Linked DNA regions of Homo sapiens: regions 2 and 3 are each linked to region 1. The links come from fine-mapping of genetic effects on gene expression. A gene starts in region 1. Each other region holds a variant in brackets. All regions are shown on one strand. Distances are between the middles of the regions. Region 1 holds the start of ETV3 (ETS variant transcription factor 3). Region 2 holds the start of ETV3L (ETS variant transcription factor 3 like). Region 3 has its middle 7.4 kb from the start of ETV3L.

Evidence for each region. PIP is the estimated chance that this variant, and not a neighbour inherited with it, causes the effect. A credible set is the group of variants that fine-mapping cannot tell apart.
Region 2: its variant is the best candidate, but not a certain one, in a credible set for the expression of ETV3 in whole blood (TOPMed, PIP 0.85).
Region 3: its variant is the best candidate, but not a certain one, in a credible set for the expression of ETV3 in monocytes after LPS (Quach 2016, PIP 0.55).

What each region holds. Positions count from the first base shown.
Region 1 is chr1:157,136,029-157,140,028 of GRCh38, forward strand. It overlaps ETV3 (ETS variant transcription factor 3), which reads right to left and starts at 2,367. Exons shown (of 5, transcript NM_001145312.3): 1 at 2,288-2,367; 2 at 279-337. The coding sequence starts at 324. RefSeq lists silencers at 2,105-2,294, 2,139-2,474, 2,525-2,894 and an enhancer at 2,826-3,431.
Region 2 is chr1:157,095,826-157,099,825 of GRCh38, forward strand. It overlaps ETV3L (ETS variant transcription factor 3 like), which reads right to left and starts at 3,983. Exons shown (of 5, transcript NM_001004341.2): 1 at 3,641-3,983; 2 at 3,316-3,553; 3 at 2,881-3,070; 4 at 2,043-2,163. The coding sequence starts at 3,698. The variant T/C (reference allele first, on the strand shown) is at 2,082.
Region 3 is chr1:157,105,190-157,109,189 of GRCh38, forward strand. No RefSeq gene overlaps it. Among named protein-coding and RNA genes, the nearest start is that of ETV3L, 7.4 kb to the left of the region's middle. RefSeq lists enhancers at 120-1,081, 1,276-1,495. The variant C/G (reference allele first, on the strand shown) is at 1,652.

The sequences.
Region 1 (4,000 bases):
AATGTTTCAGGAAAATACAGCTGAAAACTCCTTTTCCCTAAGGTTGGAACTGTGTCTCTGACAGCAAAGAGACTCTAAAGCTTAGGATATGGGTGTGGTGACCAGACATGTTAAATATACATCCATAGGAAACAAGCCTACAACTGTCCTGCCAGTATCCACCTAGCCAAGAGAGTGTCAGTCATGGTCTGACATTTGTGAACAGAGCTCAAGTGGAGAGGACAGGAACCACTGAGGGAAGCTTCCAGGTACATCAGAGATGATTAACTTCTGCTCACCTCCACCTCCTTCTGGCTTTTCCACGATGCTACAGCCGGCTTTCATTTTCACCCGCCTGCTGAGAGACACAAGCCACACAATTACTTTAAGATGCTATTTATTTAGTATCCTCTCAAAAGTTTTCTGGCAGTCTCTCCCCAAACTTCCTTTCCCCTGTTCTTCTTTCCGTATGCAACTCTCTTTCTTTCAAACATGTCACCTCCAAACTGCTACTCCCCAAGTTATCAAATGATGGGCCTCAGGTCATCAGCTTCAAAAGCCATAATTATCTCTCACCTGACTTTAAACCACAAAGTGTAAACACTGTCTTTAATATTTGTTTTCCTCCTCCTGACCAACCCTTCAAATGTAAAAAAATAAAAATAAAAAAGGAAGGTACAGTGAAATGGGTCCAAAAACGCAGCCAAAACAAGTCAAACAGTTTGTCTTCTATTACTAGACAAGCCCACATGCCAAGATACACAAGCCTGAGTTCACCAAGATGTACCAGTTTAAAGGATGAAAAAATCCCAAATCCATCTGATTCCCACTCAAGAATGAACATCTGATTTTGATTTATTTTACTGAATTATGTGAGATAGAAGGAAGATTCTTCCCAGCCACAAACTGCTCCCTCCCCCTTGAAAAATACCCTGGGATACAGGAAGTAAACACACCATATGTACATTTACTCTATTCAAAAAACACACACAAACTCTCAAAAATTTTTTGAGAAAAATTATACATTTTCTCCATTTAACAGGAAGGGGTGAAAAGCAGGCATTTCTGAAGCCCTTCTGGCCAGTGAGTGGAAGGAGTCTTGCTGCGATTTGAATTCATTCCATCCAGATTTACAGTTCCTCAATAAATTTCCTGTTCCTCCCAGCAAGGAGCTTTGTGTTAATCACTTAGCAAAAAGGAGGGAGGGGTGAAACTGCCAGAGGGACATGGAGGGAGGGCAGATCTACCCTCGCTGTTCCCCAGGGTGGATGACAGGCCCTCAGCATCCACATTAGCAGGCATCTGGAGAGAATGCCTAAGTGGCCCCCGCGTAGGGACAAATTCCTTATCTTGGAAATTTCACCTAACCTAGGATTTCTCTAGATCTTTTGAATATTTTTTCTCACCAAACACATTAAGGAGACCAGCAAGTGTCAGTCTACAAAACTACTAGCGGCCGAGGACAAGATAAACACCCCAAAGGAAGGAGCAGACAAGGAAAAACACACACACACACACACACACACACACACACTCTCACACACACACGAGATACATAATAACGAGGCACCGGGGCTGAGGCAGGAGCTTCCTCTTCCACCTTAGTGACAATGAGGGAGGAAAAACACGAATTTCCCCACTGCTCCAGGAAGCTGCCCTGGACTCTTAACTCCTAGGATGCGCTGTCAGATCGCGAGGCCTTTTACCCTGCCACAGAACTCCCTCCAACCATCACGACCCTGGGGTCCAAATCCCGTTGCAACGATAACCTGACAAGGAAACCCTCTCTTGACACTCCAGCTCTCCAATTTTCCCCATAAAAGTCCCTTTCCCAGGAGCCCTGGGGCGCCTCTGCACGCCTTTCGCATATTCACTGCAAGGACACTTCCATCCAAGTAGGGCCACTCGTCTCAACTCTGCAAACCACAGGACCCCTGCCCTTCCTCTGATCGCGACCACTCCCCGAAGAGTGAGGCATGCACAGTCTGGCGCTGCGGGTTTCCCGCAGCAGCTCCGGGTCCTGGCTTCCACAGCCCCCAGAACCTCCTTGCCATTCACCTCCCGGGCCGGGCTTCCCTTAACCGTGGCCTCAGGGCTGCGCGGGGCCACCGCATGAACGCTGCCCTGGGTCCCTGTCGCCCCTCAGACAGACACGGGATCCCACCCTCCCCCGCCCCCCGCACTGGGTGAGGCCCAGCTGGGTGGGTACGCGGCCTGGCGGCCGGCCCCGATTCCAGGGACGCCGTCCCCGCCAGGGTCCCGGATCCAACCCAGACACCCCGGCGGCCGAGGCGAGGCCGGGACTCACCTCTTCCCGGCACGGTCCGTCTTCGGTCCGGTCTCCTCCGCGGCGTCTCCGGCTCCTCCTCATCCACCCCAGCAGGAAGTGACCTCCTCGGCTGCTTTCGTCACTTCCATCCTCAGCAGAGAGGGCGGGGGAGGAGGAGGCGCCCTCCCGCCGGTTCCCAGCCTCACCTCGCCGCACCCAGCAGCGTCTCCCTTTCCTTTCTCCTTTCAGCAGACGCCGACTTCCGCCCGCACTCCTCCCCCTGCGCGCTCCTCCCGGCCCGCATCCCGCGCATCCGCCCCGGCACGGCCCGTGCGTCACGCTGCGGGGGCACGTTACGCACGCTCGTGGCGGGCGGCCGGCCCGGTCCGCTGCTGGGCCAGGGTCCTCCAGACGCCGAGGGGTGACGCGGCGCGAGGGGGTGCTGAGCTGCTATACGCTTCCCCCGCCAGTCCTGCGCCGTGAGGCAGAACGGACTTTGCGGGGCGAGGCGCTGCCCCGGGGTCCCACCTCCCGGGGGAGGGGACCTCGCAGACCCCACAGGAAGGCCCAGGCGCCGGGAAACAGTCTCTCCCACACAACAGAGAGGCGGCCCGTCTTTCTCCAGAAATGGGCCCTGCGACCTCCCAGAGTGGGGATCCCTCACAATGGGAAGACGGGACCCGCAGACTTCAGACGCAATTTCCCTACCCTTTAAGAAAGGGCCCTTTCATATACGTATGAAAGAAACCGCAAAGCTTTCTCTGAAGCACGTCGCTTTGGCATTTCCTCCCTGGGAAGACTGGGGGGCATGACCGCTTCCCCGCTAGTTCCCACCCCACTGCATTTAGTCTTAATTCGTCCCAGTCTAAGCAGCTTGCAAGTCCTCTCCCTAAGTCATTAAAACGCGTGTCCCCTTTTGGTTTTACCTTTTGTTCCTGCTCGGGCAATTTGTCTGTCCAAAGCATGATTTTTTCTTCCTTTAGAGGCTCATTAAGGATAAAGAATCTCAAGCAGTTCAGCTTTATCTGCAGTCCCACCCCTGTAAATCTGAGTGGTGTCCAGGCATAGTTTCACTCCAGAGGCAGAAGAAAGGGAGTAGTGAGGATCAGTAAAGGTTAAAGAATTTAGAATAAATACGAGCGTGGGGGAGGTGAAGAAGAGAGATGGGATTGAAGGAGAATTGAAGATCAATTTTGATCAAATGGATCAAAACTTTGTACCTCTGCTCTAGTAAGACCTTTGCACCGTCTCTGCCACATGGGACTTGGAGATATTAGTTGTTACAAAAATTGCTTCCAGTTTTGAATGTGCTACTAGTCACTGTGTAGCTCTTGATAAATTAATTAGTAAATTGGCTCCCTCTGGCCTAAAATTACCTTACCTGTTTTTTAAAAAAGATAACATTGTTGTGTCTTTTCTAGTTAGAACTTCCTACTCTGTAGGTGAACAAAATAAGGAGCAGAACTTAAACACCATAGAGAGGGTTACCGATACCTGCAACTAGTCCACTAGCTCTTTGTAGGAACTGTCTATATATTCTTTGCATCTTGTGCATGGTACCTAGAACGGCAACTTACATGTAGATATCAGATGTTTGCTAGAACATTCCTTTAAAATATTGGGGTTCGGCTAAACGGAAATTAAGTCCTTGTGCCTTCATCTACTAGCTTTGTGACCTTAGTTAAGTGACTTAACTTCTCTGTGTCAGTTCCTCATCTATGTGAACATAATACCTACAGTATCTACTGATGT
Region 2 (4,000 bases), 40 kb before region 1:
GGGGTGAAGGCCATGGATCCTTCTTCCATGAAATTGGCTGGAGTAGAGGGGCAATTCTTTGACCTCTGCACAAGAGCCTTGGTTTGGCCAAGTGTCTCTGTGATCTTTTTCACAGAAAATCTGATACTGTCAGTTCCCAGCTCACAGCCTCTGTAAGAGCTGATGTCTGCCTCCATTTCCACCTCTTCTCCCACTCATTGGCCATGTGTTTCTGCACTGGCCTTCTCCCAGTCTCTCTGTTCCAGGGCCATTGCATGCACTATTCTCTCGCTCGCCCTCTGTTCCAGGGCCATTGCACACACTATTCTCTCGCTCGCCATGCTCTCCCTACTCCCTCTGAGCTAAGCTGACACTCACGTATACTTTGGGTGTCATCTCAAGTGTCACTTTGTCAAGGAAGTCTTCCCTGATGCCCTCGGCACCCTGCACTTCTCCTCTGCAGCAGTTAGCACAGTTATAATCACTTATCGATCATTAGTTGAATATCTGCACCCCCCTTGCCTATAAGTCCCATAAAGGCAGTGTTGCTCACATTGGCTTCCTAGCCCCTAGGACAGTGCCTGGCAAATTAAACAGGAGGTCATTAAGCATCTGTTGAAAGAAGAAATGAATGAGTGAGTGAATGAGTGAATGAACCCTATCTTCCCAATCTCTCTCCAGCTGAGCCTCCTTCTTCATCCCATGGCCGTTGTCTTGGTTACCGCCCCATCATCTCCTGCCTAGATTATCTTCAAAAGCCTCCCAACTCCAGTCTTATGCTTCCTCCAACCCAAACTCTACACACACACAGTCATCTTTATAAAATGAAAGTCTGGCAGGGCGCGGTGGCTCACGCCTGTAATCCCAGCACTTTGGAAGGCCGAGGCAGGCGGATCACCTGAGGTCAGGAGTTCAAGACCAGCCTGACCAACATGGAGAAACCTGGTCTCTACTAAAAATACAAAATTAGCCAAGGTGGTGGCGCATGCCTGTAATCCCAGTTACTTGGGAGGCTGAGGCATGAGAATCGCTTGAACCCAGGAGACGGAGGTTGCAGTGAGCCGAGATTGTGCCATTGCACTCCAGCCTGGGCAGCAAGAGCAAAACGCCATCTCAAAAAATAATAAAAGAAAGTAAAATAAAATGAAAGTCTGACCATGGATCTCCCTCCCAGTCCCTCCTGCCCACAGGAGAAAGTCCTGCTCCCTTAGCATGGCTTGTGCGGCCTCTGTGGCCTGACACCTGTTTGCCTTGCCAGCCCTGTCTCTCATCCGTCCTGCTTGTTCCCACCGCATCGCAAGACTTGCTCTCCAACAGCAAACTACCAGCTGTTCTCCAGATTTGCTACACTTGTTCACAGCTTTTTGCTTTATAAATGCTATTTCTGACTGGGTGTGGTGTCTCACACCTGTAATCCCAGCAGTTTGGGAGGCTGAGGCGGGTGGATCACCTGAGGTCAGGAGTTTGAGACCAGCCTGGCCAACATGGTGAAACCCCGTCTTTACTAAAAATACAAAAATTAGCTGGGCGTGGTGGTGCATGTCTGTAGTCCCAGCTACTCAGGAGGCTGAGGCATGAGAATCACTTGAACCTGGGAGGCAGAGGCTGCAGTGAGCTGAGATCCTGCCACTGTGTTCCAGCCTGGGCAACACTGAGACTCCGTCTCAAAAAAAAAAAAAAAAAAAAGAATAAATAAATGCTATTCCCTCTGCTTAGGCATCTTTTCCCACCTCCTTCACCTGCCCCAGTGTTGTGTCCTCTGGGAAGCCCCAGTTCCTTCTCTGGGCCTGAATGCACAGCACCTAGTGCTTACCTGAATGCCAGCAGCAGTCGCTGGCAGTAATCCCATCTCTGCTCCCCACTAGGTTCTGAGCCTCTTGAGCCTTTCATCTCTGAACCCCCGCACTTAGTAAATAGCTGGTGTTCAATAAATGTTGGTCGAATGAATGAATGAGTTACATAGTATCCCTTGTCTCATGCCCCCTCAGCCATGTACTCAGCCAGGAGGGCCCTCCCTCCTCTGGCTAAGATCCCCCTGGGCCCTCCCAGCCTTGAGCACTCACGGTAGACGCTGCTGCTGCTCCCCTTCTTATCCCCAGAGG[T/C]CTCTGGTGGCCCTCGGGGGGTCTGCTGTCCTGTCAGCTGCTCCACCATGGCCTGATGGGCAAATAGCATGCTGTGCAGGAGCTGAGGGGTGAGAAGTAGGTGCGAGGTGTGATGGGCTCTCCTTGGCATGTATCCTCCAGTACAATCTGGTACTGTTAGCCAGTTGCTAAAACAATGAAATACTCTCATACCGATTTTTTTTTTTTTGAGTTGGAGTCTTGCTCTGTCACCCAGGCTGGAGTGCAGTGGCGCCATCCTGGCTCACTGCAACCTCTGCCTCCTGGGTTCAAGCGATTCTCCTGCCTCAGCCTCCCTAGTAGCTGGGATTACAGACATGTGCCACCATGCCCAGCTACTTTTATATTTTTATTGGAGATGGGGTTTTGCCACGTTGTCCAGGCTGGTCTCGAACTCCTGACCTCAAATGATCCGTCCACCTCGTCCTCCCAAAGTGCTGGGATTACAGGTGTGAGCCACCACGCCTGGCCTCTCATACCCATTGTTAAAAGCCCACTGCCACGGCTGCCTACAGTCTCAGATGCCCTGGGCCCTTCCCTCTGATCCACCCCTAAAGGAGTGGCGACTAGGACAGAAGGAGCCACCCTTTCTCACAGGTGGGTCCTGTACCACCTGGATTGTTAATACCCCTGCCTCTGGGGCACTCAGGGTCTAGGATGCAGGAGGAGAAGAAAACTGGAGGCTGATGGGCCCCAGAGGCAAAGAGGAGGGTGGGGAGCCTCCTGGGCAGAGGGGTAGGACCTGGTGGAGCCCTGAGACAGGGGCCACCTCCGCTCTTACCTCACTCTGCACACCCACGGGCACCAGCGCTGGCCGACACAGGGCAGGGGCCCCCAGCAGCAAGTGGGGGGATGGCGGCGCCCGCACTTCCCACAAAGGATAGTTGACTACGATGAGCTTGCTGAAGTTGAACTTGTATGTGAACCTTTTGCCTTTGGTCTTATGCAGGATCCTCTTATTGTAGTAATATCTGGAGAATTCGAAGTTGAGAATAGAGTTGGCCCAGCAGTCAGAGAATAGAGTCAGGGACCCAGTCACATTCTCCTCCCTAGCCGGGCTGACCCTAAGCTGTTCCCCGAGAACCACTAGGCTGCTCACCACAGGCCAGGACACTTCCCAAGCCTTGGAGGGGTGGGAGTCAGCAGGGGTACCAGAAACCACGGCCCTTTTCCTTGAAATCCCCCCTCTTTGGCCATGTCAGCCGCCTCCTCTCACCTGAGGGCCCGGCTCAGCTTGTCATAATTCATCTGTGGTTTGCATTTCCTGCGGCCCCAGAGGCGGGCCACCTCATCTGGATCCTTGATGACAAATTCCCCGTACTCTCCCTGCTGCCAGGCGATGACATGGCGGAACTCTTCCTTCTGCAGCAGCTCCAGGATGAAGTGCCACAGCTGGATCTGCCGGGAGCCTGGGGACGACTCGGCTTTGTAGGCCCAATCAGGGAAGGCCAACCCTGGGTGGAGAGGGGAGAGTGAGGGCTCTGGAGGCCCTGCCCTAGGCCACCGTTGGAGCAGGGGGTAGGCCCGGCCAAGAGGCTCACCTGAGATCCAGTTGCCGGGGTTGGCTGGGATGCCCTCAGCCAAGCAGCTGCAGTGCATGGTCCACTCCGGCGAGATGGGCTGTGTCTGGGCCTTGGGGAAATGGTCACCACTTAAGAGGAAGGGAAGGAAGGAGGCAGAGGGGAGGACAGTGAAAGAGGAAGGAAAAATGGAGGGAAAGAAGGAAGGAAGGGAGAGGGTCAGGAAAGAAAGAGAGAAAAGGGAAGGGACAAGAGGTTGCCAGTGAAGGGGAGAAAAGGGAACCAGAGGCAGCAAGCTTCCCCATACCCAGACAGGGCCCAGCCCCCTCTGGGGACCTCCCCGCTGCCCAGGGCTGACTCGGACTCAGGGCTTCCGGCTGA
Region 3 (4,000 bases), 31 kb before region 1:
AGAGCAAGAGGGGCTGGGGGCCTGGGAGGGTCAAAGCCAGTCGCCTTTTTCCTTGGAGAATTTGGGGGAAGGAGAGGGCTAGATACCCTTCCTTCATGTCCCCTTAACTTCTCTTTCCTTCTCCCCTGACCAAGGGATATGCTGGCAGTGACCCCAAGGGCATCTTTTCTCTCCCTGCCCAGGCAATAGAGAGGACCCCTTTTTGATGCTGGGTGCTGGGAATCAGCCAGACGAACCCTGTCTCCCTCCTGCAGCCTCAGCTCTTCCTTCTATCTCCACAGCTGGGAGAGCCTCCCCGAGTGGGGTCCAGCAGCAGTCCTGCTTCTCCTTCTCTTTCCTCAGTCCTCAACGCCCCTCCAGGCTCCCTCTCGACTGCTGTCACTGCCCAGTCCCCTCATACAGCCTCAGATCTCTGCCCAGCCCCTCCTCTTAGTCCCCCTGTCCCTTGCAGATGCCTCCAACTCTTGTCTCTTGGGTCCCTGGGGGCCGTGGGATTTAAAAGTTTTGTGTAACTCCGTGGAGCAGAAATCCAAACCCAGACACTCCCATCCCCTGCCCCTCAGACCTGTCACGATGGGCAGCTGAAGGTCGGGGGAAGGTCATCCCCTGACACACCTTCAGGGACCCAGGGGCTCGGGAAGGGACGAGGGTGTCTGGAGACCAGCTTCCAGCTCCGCACCCATCCCTCTGCCTGTCAGGCCCCGGCCGGTCTCCACTTCTCTCTGTTTGACCGGTTTATCTTTCTTCACCTCATTTGCTCCTTCACTGTTCTCTCCTCTTCCCTCCCACTTTAATTCTTTTTCCTTCTTTCCACTTCCCACCCAGCAACCTTCTCTTGGCCTTTCTTCCCCACCATTATTGATTTTGCCATGTATTTTTCCACTCCTGTCTCTCTTCTCCCCTGTCCTCTCCTCTGCCAGTTTCTCTTGGTCTCTCCATTTCTGCCTTTACTTCCTGTGTCTGCCGATCCTATGGCCTCTCTTTGTTGCCCTACCTATCCTGCCCCTTGGAATGCCCATTTCCCTCCTCTGGAGTGTTGCCTGTCTCAACACTTCTTTCCCAGCCTGGTGCTCTCTGTTTTGCTGTCTCTGTCACTGTCTCCTGTTGTTGCTTTCTGTTTCCTTGTCTGTCTTTCCTCTCTTGCCCCCCATCTCTCATCCATGCTTTGGAGAAGGAAACTGACCACAGGCCTCCCAGCTTCCCTGCCCTGCCCTTATAGCACCACCACCCCACTCCCCTACTTCCTCCTCAGATCCCCCCTGCGCCCCTCGACCTTCCCCTAGTGGCAACCTCATTCCCATCAGCTGTGCCTGGGGGAGCCCCCTGCCTGGACACCCCCTGATCCTTCCCTTTGTCCCCCCAACACAGAGACAAGAAATCCCCTCCAGCAGGCGATGACGTGGCAGAGGAGCAGGTCAGAGGCAGAGGAAGTGAAAGCTCCTAGCAAACAGCTGAGCTGGATGAGCTGGCAGGGCCAGCATGGGGCTGAGTAACTGGGACCAGGACAGCAGCGTGAGAAGCAGGCATCTGAGGCCATTCTCCCCAGCTGGGGGCCTCTGATACCTTCTGACTCAATCCCCAACCCTCAACCCTCATGTCCACTTCCAGCCTCAACCCCAACCCCAATCTTAACAAGAACCTTCAACTTCCA[C/G]TAAGCCCAAAGCCTCATTGAAGGCTGCATCCATGCACCCTGGTCCCTGTGCCCACTGGAGCCCCACTGCCCTTGGGCAGGACCAGAAAGGGGCTCGGAGGTGGCGAGACAGCAGCACCACTCTCCCCAGCCCTTCTCCTCTTGTCTCCACTGGGAAGGAGTTGGTGAGACGAGCAGGACTTCTCTCTGCCACGGGAGCATCATCTCTGTGTCTCTCCAGCCTCACAAGCCTGGATCTGCCCTCACCATCACAGGGGCTCTCGTGATAAGCAGGAGACTTCACGTTCTCAGACTTTAGGCTTCTTCTAGTTCCTTGAAAAGGATCCCAAGAGTCTGAGGAAGGGAGGGAGGTAGGAGTGGGGCAGAATCCTCTCATCCCATCAGAGGTTTCAATTCAGAACACCCCAGCCCGGATCAGGTGGGAGCACAATCCTGGTGGCCCTCTGCCCACCCCTGCTCCTTCCCGTCCTCATGCTATGAGGTCCACACCCTCACCTGCCTCCCTCTGCCCAGTAGTAGCCACCAGCTGATTGTCAATCCTCACCCACTGATCTTCAACCTCAGCCACAGGGATGACAGCAGAGAGCTCCCTGAGACACAGAACCCTGGGGCAGGGAGATAGCTGAGGCCAGCATTCGGTCAGCCCCAGGATCCAACTTGATCCATTCATCCCAAGAGTTGTATCTGCCAATAGCTGACCCCAGCTGTGCCCCATCTTGGGGGAGGAGAGCCTATTGGTAGGCTGGACCTGCTGTCATTATGATGTCCTTCTGCAGGTGCCAGGGTTCTCTCTGGCCTAAGTGCCCAACACCTGGCTCTGTGGCTGTCCCATACCTAGATGGAAGAGCCCTGCCACCTCCCACGCAGCTTCAGTGTGACCCTTGGGTTCCCCTCTCCACCCGGTGCCTAGCTCTCTTTATGTCTCCCCTTCCTAATTGCCCCACGATCGGCTCCACCATTGAGGTGGTGGACAGAGAAGGGCTCGTCCCTGCCGGCTGGCCCCAGCTGCAGACCTGCCATCGGAGTCCCTTACCTTGGATCAGCAGCCAGGTCCCCGTGCTCCTCCGACTGGCTCCCTCTGGCGCTCTCCTCGCCCAGCAACGACCCCCTCCTCGCTCATCACACGCGTTAGGGTTACTTAAAATGAGAGCGGGATCTCCAAGCTCCCAGGGGAGCCGATGTGGTTTTCAGACAATAGCATTAACCCTTCGGGGGCTAGCAACACCACGGCCTTGAGCCCCTTCCCTTGCACCCCCACCTCTTTGGGGGTGAGGTGGGAGGGAGTATCTCTCACTGGGTCCTTTGCATCCAGAGCCTGCCTCTGGGGAAGATCAGACCTAAAACATCTGACCCACCGGGAGACTAGGGAGAGGGCTACCCCTTCTTTAACGCCAGGAAAAGGGACGCTGACCTATTGGGAAGGCCTTCTGCTGTCCACCCTTCCTACTTTGTCAGCCCTTCTTTTATGCAGACTTCTGTGGAGATGGAGTCCAGATCTGCAGAAGAAACACCCTTCCCAATCTCTGATTCTTAACACCATCTCACTCCTTGTTTTCTCCTCTGAGCCCCAGACCATGCTCTGCTCACCATGGTAGTGCTGGATCTTTGCAATTTGTAACTTTTCTTCGTAGTCTCCAGTAAAATGATACTAATCATTTACCTAATCTCTTTTCCCTAAGGATTTTAAAGCAGCGATTATGTCTGTTTCCTCTTAGAGTTGTAGAAAATGATTTTTTCCTTTTTTAAAAAAATTAATGTGACTTGAAGTTAGACAGCAGGAAGAACTTCCAACTAAGGGATAAACCAGGCAGGAGAAAGTGATGACGGGGTCATCAGAGAGCCTGCTAAGGAAATATTACAAACAAGAGAAGGGGTAGGAATCCAGAATGTTCTGGGAGGGGATGGAGGACGTGGGTAACTGACCTCAGGAAAGGCTTTTCCAGGGAAGCTGGAGGAGGGACGATACTGAAGACCAGGGCCTCTGTCGTTAAAGTCCTGGGGATCAAGTGACCCTGGAGCCTGTCGGCCCTGTCTCCAATCTCCCCACTCACCATCGGGGAGAAGATTGATGGATGTCATTGGGGGAATCAATATGATTTTCTTTTTTTTTCCCCTGACTCTGAGATACCAAGTTTCCCCCTACCCTCCACTCTCCTCGTTACACAGACCCTCCCAACCCTGAGCTGATCGAGATGGGACTGGAGGGCCATGGAATTAAATTCTGGGGGTTGTTTTCTGGCTAAATCAACCGAAGCTAACATGATGGAAAGGTGAGAGAGAGGCTGACTGACGGAGGAGACAGGAGCTGGGGGCCATGGAGAGAGGGTCCTGGTCAGGGAGAGCCAGGAA